2 linked regions of the Homo sapiens genome follow. The protein of the gene in region 1 purifies or fractionates together with the protein of each later gene. This does not show direct contact. Each region holds a gene or a part of one and is shown on either strand. Other genes may lie near its edges.

What was found.
Region 2: the proteins of PYY (region 1) and PLXDC2 purify together in Homo sapiens (affinity purification with mass spectrometry; one large-scale study listed by BioGRID and IntAct). This does not show direct contact.

The regions. Positions count from the first base shown.
Region 1 is NC_000017.11:43,951,962-43,955,167, reverse strand, and holds PYY (peptide YY isoform 1 preproprotein), read left to right. Parts: upstream 1-1,227; 5' UTR 1,228-1,318; intron 1,319-1,684; coding exon 1,685-1,872; intron 1,873-1,978; coding exon 1,979-2,059; coding exon of another isoform or gene 2,060-2,063; exon of another isoform or gene 2,064-2,187; coding exon 2,188-2,212; 3' UTR 2,213-2,435; downstream 2,436-3,206. UniProt on the Homo sapiens protein: This gut peptide inhibits exocrine pancreatic secretion, has a vasoconstrictory action and inhibitis jejunal and colonic mobility.
Region 2 is NC_000010.11:20,144,742-20,148,560, reverse strand, and holds part of PLXDC2 (plexin domain-containing protein 2 isoform 1 precursor), read right to left. Parts: intron 778-3,819; coding exon 659-777; intron 1-658. UniProt on the Homo sapiens protein: May play a role in tumor angiogenesis.

The sequences.
Region 1 (3,206 bases):
TGAAGGTCCTTCCCCTACTCCGCCTCTCAGAGTGGGTGTGGGCCCTAGACTTAGTCTTCGGGTCCCTGCTCCCAGGCCTGCCTCTGGCGCCCCAATGGCTACTCCAGGTGCTGAGCCTTTCTGCCCCTCACAATTGAGAGGTCCTCTTCCTGGGTTCTGCCTCACCCTGCTTTTCCTGTTTGAATTGTGGGTGAGCTTGGCTGCTCCATCACCTCCCAGGGCTTCAGTTTCCTCATCTGGAAAATGGAGATAAACTCAGCTCATCGTCTTGTGATGCCCGAAATTATGCACTACCTAGTGCATAGTAGGTGCTTAATAAACACGAGTCCTTTCCTTCAAAGGATCTGGGCTTAGAGCCCAGTGGAGACTGCCATGGGCTGGGGACAGTGGCATGTGCCTGGGAAGCCTTGGCATCACTCAGGCCCAGAAGACACCAGTGCTCTGAATGACACCTGCATAGGGGTGGAGACACTCTGCCTTGGGAGGGGGCTCTATACCACACATGGCTGGACTGGGGTCTGTGTGTGCCAGTCTGGATACACAGGTGGCCGACTCAGCTGCTTCTGGCGGGGAGATTGGTTTCTGCCTCCTCCTGCCTCTTTTCCAACTCTTTAATAGAGAGAGGACATAATGGAGTGTTCAGAGAGGCCTCTCCCCAAGACACCATAAACTGCAGGTCAGGAGCCAAGGTCAGGTGCTCCCACCCTGCCTCCAGGAGAAAGACTTTCCCCAAAAGGTCCTGTCATTCCTCAGCCCTTCTCCAAGGTATTACTGAACAGAGGCTGAAAAGGGTTGTCTTTTGGAAAGAGTGGTCACACATCCCACGGACTGGAGGGAATGTGTCCACCCTCCCACCCCCAACTCCCATCCACGGACAGGCTAGGGAAGACAGAATCTCAACCCTGGTCCTAGGGGCTGCCCCAGGAGTCTAGATCCAACCGCTTCACTTCCTCAGGAGGCTAGACCTGCCACTGGGGGGCTGTGGGGTGAACATGGGGTTCAGGCTGGGTACCCCATCCAGTGAGACCACGAATCTGAGCATGGCAACTGCCCCCTCAGCTCCTGCGAGGTGGAGACATCACGCACTGGCTGGGTATAAGCTCAGCGATCTGGCGAGGGTGGAAGGAGGGAGGAAGAAGGGCCCACCCCCTGCTGGCTCCCCCTCCCCCTGGGACTCCCCCTCCCTTTCCAGGCGGGGATATAAGCCCCACAAGGAAAGCGCTGAGCAGAGGAGGCCTCAGCTTGACCTGCGGCAGTGCAGCCCTTGGGACTTCCCTCGCCTTCCACCTCCTGCTCGTCTGCTTCACAAGCTATCGCTGTGAGTGGCTGGGGGCTCAAGCCTGGGGAAACCCAGGCTGTTTTGTGGGGAAACTGAGGCTGGGATGGTGGAAGCTGGGGGTGAGTGGTAGGAAACTGGATTGGAGGGGGCCATCGGAGGTGGGAAGGAGGCCAGCAGCGGGGGTGGGGGTGGGGAGGCAGGCAGGGCTTATGCTCCTCTGACATGAGGAAACTGAGTCAGGAGACGGTGCAGTGCCCAAGAACACACAGCAAGCCCGGTGGCTGAGCCTTGGTCCGGTACCAGCCCCAGGGAGAGCGTCGGAGCGCGGCCCCGACGGCAGCCGCAGCCTCCCGCCGTGTAGGGTCGAGGCTTGGAATGACCCACGTCCCAATGTCGCCTTCCCAGATGGTGTTCGTGCGCAGGCCGTGGCCCGCCTTGACCACAGTGCTTCTGGCCCTGCTCGTCTGCCTAGGGGCGCTGGTCGACGCCTACCCCATCAAACCCGAGGCTCCCCGCGAAGACGCCTCGCCGGAGGAGCTGAACCGCTACTACGCCTCCCTGCGCCACTACCTCAACCTGGTCACCCGGCAGCGGTGAGCGCAGGCGCGGAGCGGGACCCCTGGGGCTCTCACCCTGCGGCCCCGCTCCACCTGGGGGCGTGGCCAGATCTGACCACGCTCTTCCCTTCCCCGCCCCCAGGTATGGGAAAAGAGACGGCCCGGACACGCTTCTTTCCAAAACGTTCTTCCCCGACGGCGAGGACCGCCCCGTCAGGTCGCGGTAAAAGCGCCCGTTACCACACATCCTGCATCCGAGAGCGCGGCCTGGCCCTACCCTGGCAACATCACTTAACGACGTCTCCCAGGCTCGCCTCCCCAGATCCAATTCCTTCCCCTTCGCTTCCGCAGGTCGGAGGGCCCAGACCTGTGGTGAGGACCCCTGAGGCCTCCTGGGAGATCTGCCAACCACGCCCACGTCATTTGCATACGCACTCCCGACCCCAGAAACCCGGATTCTGCCTCCCGACGGCGGCGTCTGGGCAGGGTTCGGGTGCGGCCCTCCGCCCGCGTCTCGGTGCCCCCGCCCCCTGGGCTGGAGGGCTGTGTGTGGTCCTTCCCTGGTCCCAAAATAAAGAGCAAATTCCACAGAAACGGAATGTATGCCTTTGTATTTCCTTTCCTTTCTCCTTCGTGGAGGTGGCATCCCGTAGAAGTGGAGGGTGGAGGCGTGGGGGCCAGGGAAGAGAAAACCGACTTGGACAGAGGCGCCCCAGGACAAGGCTGGGGCGGGCTGCGGAGTTCCCTCTGCTCGGAGCCCAGGGAAGACTCGACCACCCAGCCTGGAGCTGGACAGCGCCCAGGCCAGGAACTGCTGTGGAAGGAACTCTGGTCGAGTGGGGGCAGGAGTGGATGGAACTCTGGAAGAAGGGGCGGGGAGCGGCGACAGGAGCCTGCTAGGCAGCCTAGGAGAGCAGATGGGGTCAGGGCTGTCCCTCCCCCACCCCGTGAAGCCGAAGACGGCTGGGGGACGAGTCGGGCACCAACACCCCGGGGCGTTTCCCCAGGAGCTGTAGTACTAGCGCCCAGGGCTGGAGTGGCTGGAGGTGAAGTGTAATCCAAAATGGGGCTGTGGAGGAAGAGCCGTGTGGGGGTGAGATGGCTGTACGTGTGCTGGCCGGAGAGGCAGGCCATTTCTACCGTCCCCCTTTCCCTGAGTAGAGGAGCAATGGGAGTGTGGAGGCTGCCCTATCCCTAAGAAACCTCCCTCCCCAATCTCGCTGAATTCACACGCAGTGGATAAGTCACGAACTGTTCTTTCTTAGTGACAAGGCCATAGGGACACCCTCCATGTACCCCCCTCCCCTGGACTAGCTACTGAAGCCTAAAGGCTCTGTGGATGTTTAAACTGGAATCCAACTCGAATCCCT
Region 2 (3,819 bases), on another chromosome or scaffold:
TTCTAGTCTAAATATTCTGTAAATTTAAGGCTACAATTTAGTAAATTTTCATTCTTTACTTTGTCAGTTTGTTAAAATGAAACAAACCTAAGTTTAAATTTCCTTGTTTTTTCTGTCACTTAGGTCTCTAATTAATCTTTCCTATCTGGTTTCAACAAACATTAGCCAAAGCACAGCCATCCTAGAACTCTCTCAGTACTGGGTCCTTGAGCCACATAAGTTTTCGTGTCTATAAATGCTTTTGAAATTAGAACCAAAATATAACAAAGAAATCAACCAGGTGAAAAAAAAAAAACTAACTAAAGAAAATACGTAAATATAAACATTTACATTTAGATGAGAAATCCCTCCAAATTGAATTTTTTTTCTTAGAGACATTTCACTCTAATTACTCAATAATTAGTCAATATAATTACTCAATAATTTTATGAAATTGATGAGTCCTGATGCCAACAATATCAGAATACAAAAGAGCTAACAATCAATGCACCCAGAAAATTAAAACTAATCAAAACATTTTTTATTAAGCAAAGGAAACCAAGAGGCAAGAAAATGATTTGAGGATCATGGCTGTAAAATGTCCCTTTCTTGACATTTGGAGGAAAGGCAGCAGTCAAGAACAAGGGGAAGGGAAAGAAATTATCAACGCATCACTTACTTCTTTGTATCCAAAGATGATTCGTCCATCCATGAGCAGGGTTGCCTGGAATGTGAAGCTTCCCAGGTTATAATTATCCTGGAGATGTACATGGTCCCACTGGACCACAAGTGCTGTGCCTATACACCCATTGAAAAAAGAAGAAATGCAATGAGAAAAACATACCAATCAATTCTGGTGGGAGTTTTCACAAAAATGTTTTTGCATCTGGCCTTCAAATCTGGTAGTTGTACTATTTCGATTTTATGTGGTTAATCAAATTCTGTTATTGAAATAGCATTTGGGATTTTTTTTAAAGGATTGAGTACTCTCTAAATATTTAGTAAAATAGAACCTCATACTAAGGTCAATAATTGAGCTAATGCAGTGTGGGGGAATTTTGCCTTAGGAATTTTATTAATGTTAATAGATACTGTCTGCTTAAATTTCCATAAGCCACTTTCAAAATGCAGCCCAAGTGGATTGAATGAACTTCAAATACATTTGACAAATGCTGAGAGAGAAACACATCTAAAAAGTTAGGACCACATACAAAAGACCTGAAAATGTCTTTTCCATACTTAAAATTATACTTTTCCACATTGAAGGAGTTCCTTTAACACTAATGGGAATTTTCTCCTTGAGTTCACAATGCTTGTATTTCTGTCTTTGTTGTGTTTCTTCCAGGAAGCTGTAAGAAGCTCAAAGGGCCCTGGACTAAGATTTTTGAAGTCCCCTTGAAGCACACTGGGATGAAACTTCAGTGCTGTATATTATATTCTGAATCACTCTGTCAGTGTTTACCATAAACGATTGGGCATGAAATAAAAACTGAAACATAGTTTAATAGTCACCAGTGAGAATTCAAATTTTTGTTTTAACTGACATTGTGTACTCTCTTTTTTTAAAAAAAAAGAAAAGAAATGAGCTGCTAAGACTTTTTCTTCACTCTAAATATTAGATTTTTCTGTTTGGTTAGAAAAACTGTTGCCCAAAAAAGTTGTGCTGAAAATGAAAATCATAGAACTAAAAGAGCAAATCTTATCTCCCAGTAATAAATATCTGATATATTTAAAAATTACAATTGCATGGAAGAATTAATTTTCAGTAACTATTTGGTGCTATTAGTAATATCTCTTGAGCTGGTTGACAATTTTAAATAGACACATTATTTCAAATATTTTGAACACCCAATTGTAAGTCCTGAAAGGATGTTGAAGTAAAGAAATGTATTTCTTTTGAGGCAAAACTTTAAAAGTAAAAAAGAAAAAAAAGTTTTTTAACTTGACCTTGGTGCTTTTAGCCATTATCACTGCTGTGAGTGAAGACCACTCAGGTCTCTTCCTTCCACGGGCATCTCCGTGTCTATATTGTCCTGAGGGAGGGAGGGAGGGAGGGAGGGAGGAAGGAAGGAAGGAAGGAAGGAAGGAAGGAAAAAGAAAAGAAAAGAAAGAAAGGAAGGAAGGAAGGAAGAAAGGAAGAAAGAAAGAAAAAGAAAGAAAGAAAGAAAAGGAAGCAAGGAAGCAAGGAAGAAAGAAAGGAGGGAGGGAGGAAGGAAGGAGAAAAGAAAAGAAAGAAGGAAGAGAAAAGAAAAGAAGAGAAAACAAAAAAAATAGAGCAAAAGAAGACAGTAGCCAGGAAACCTCCCATGATTTTATAAGTATAGGAATTTTCTGATTGTGAAATGCCTCCTAACTTCTTTTTCCTTCACACATGTCTACAACCCTCAAGCTCTAGTCTATTCCTTATTTTCTAGTTTCTATCGCACTCTGGTGATGCAGTGAAAACAATGAACCAGAGGGCAGAAGACTTAGACTTGCATCTTGTCTCTATAAAACTTTCCATGTGAACTTGGACACAATTAATCTGCATGAACCCGTTTCCTTTCCTATAACATGGGGAGTATAGTTTTTGCCTTCAAGACATTCCTGCATTAAATACAAGAAAATATACTTACGCTTGATTATTTATGAAAATAAGAGGGCTATATAAATTAAAGTTTTTAATGCCAATTCTGAGGAAGGGATTCCTAATATTTTGTTAGTAGCAGGTTGTTAAAAACCACACTGTTGACCAGGTGCGGTGGCTCACAACTGTAATCCCAGCACTTTGAGAGGCCGAGGCAGGCGGATCACGAGGTCAGGAGATCCAGACCATCCTGGCTAACACGGTGAAACCCCATCTCTACTAAAAAAAATATTAAAAAATTAGCCGGGCGTGGTGGTGGGCGCCTGTAGTCCCAGCTACTCGGGAGGTTGAGGCAGGAGAATGGCATGAACCCGGGAAGCGGAGGTTGTAGTGAGCAGAGATCATGCCAGTGCAGTCCAGCCTGGGCGACAGAGTGAGACTCCATCTCAAAACACAAAAAACAAAAAAAAGTGTACTGTTTGCACATGTTAAGTTTTATATTATGTAATAGCATAGCTCTCTCAACATTTGCTGATTTAAATTTTCTAACCTGCTGCTGTCTTTTCCAGAGAAGTTTGCTTTCCTAAATTGTTGAGTTTCCAATCTTTAAGTATCCTGTCAATGATTCTAACTAAACTTGAAAATATTTCAGCAAGTTGTTGTGGTATTAAAAGGGCTTCGTGAAGAGTCTTACAGTGTTTAAAAGTGTTTCATTCATTTAATAAAACGTAAGTTTTCATTATCATATTGTTTGAACTCAATATTCCTCAATATTTGATTCCTATGGAATAAGTCATTACACAGAAGATATTTCAGTGGGTAAACAATACATGCATTCTTGAGTATTAATACTTTTACAATTCTCAGACATAAAACTCACTTTACGTATGTAATTATTTTTATTCATTCATTGAATAATTATTTAGGACCTACGTCCTAAATAATAAAGTGTCTATGCAGGGTACTGGAGATAAAATGATTTCTTATAGCCACAGTCCTTGTTTTTAAAGAACTTAAGAGTTCAGTTGGAGTAGTATACATCAATTTTTAAAAATCATTCAAATACGAGTAAAATTCAAATATTAAGAGCTACCTAGGAACAAGGTATATGAAAATATATGAAGAGAGACTTATTTAATATGCTTTATGATTTTGATAGCAACAGTATAAAAACTTGGTCATTAGAATCATGTGCCCATGAGTAAATGACCCTAACATCACCTAGTGAATGTCGGAGTTTGGAAAATAGTCAGTGTTCACTAAATCATTTATTG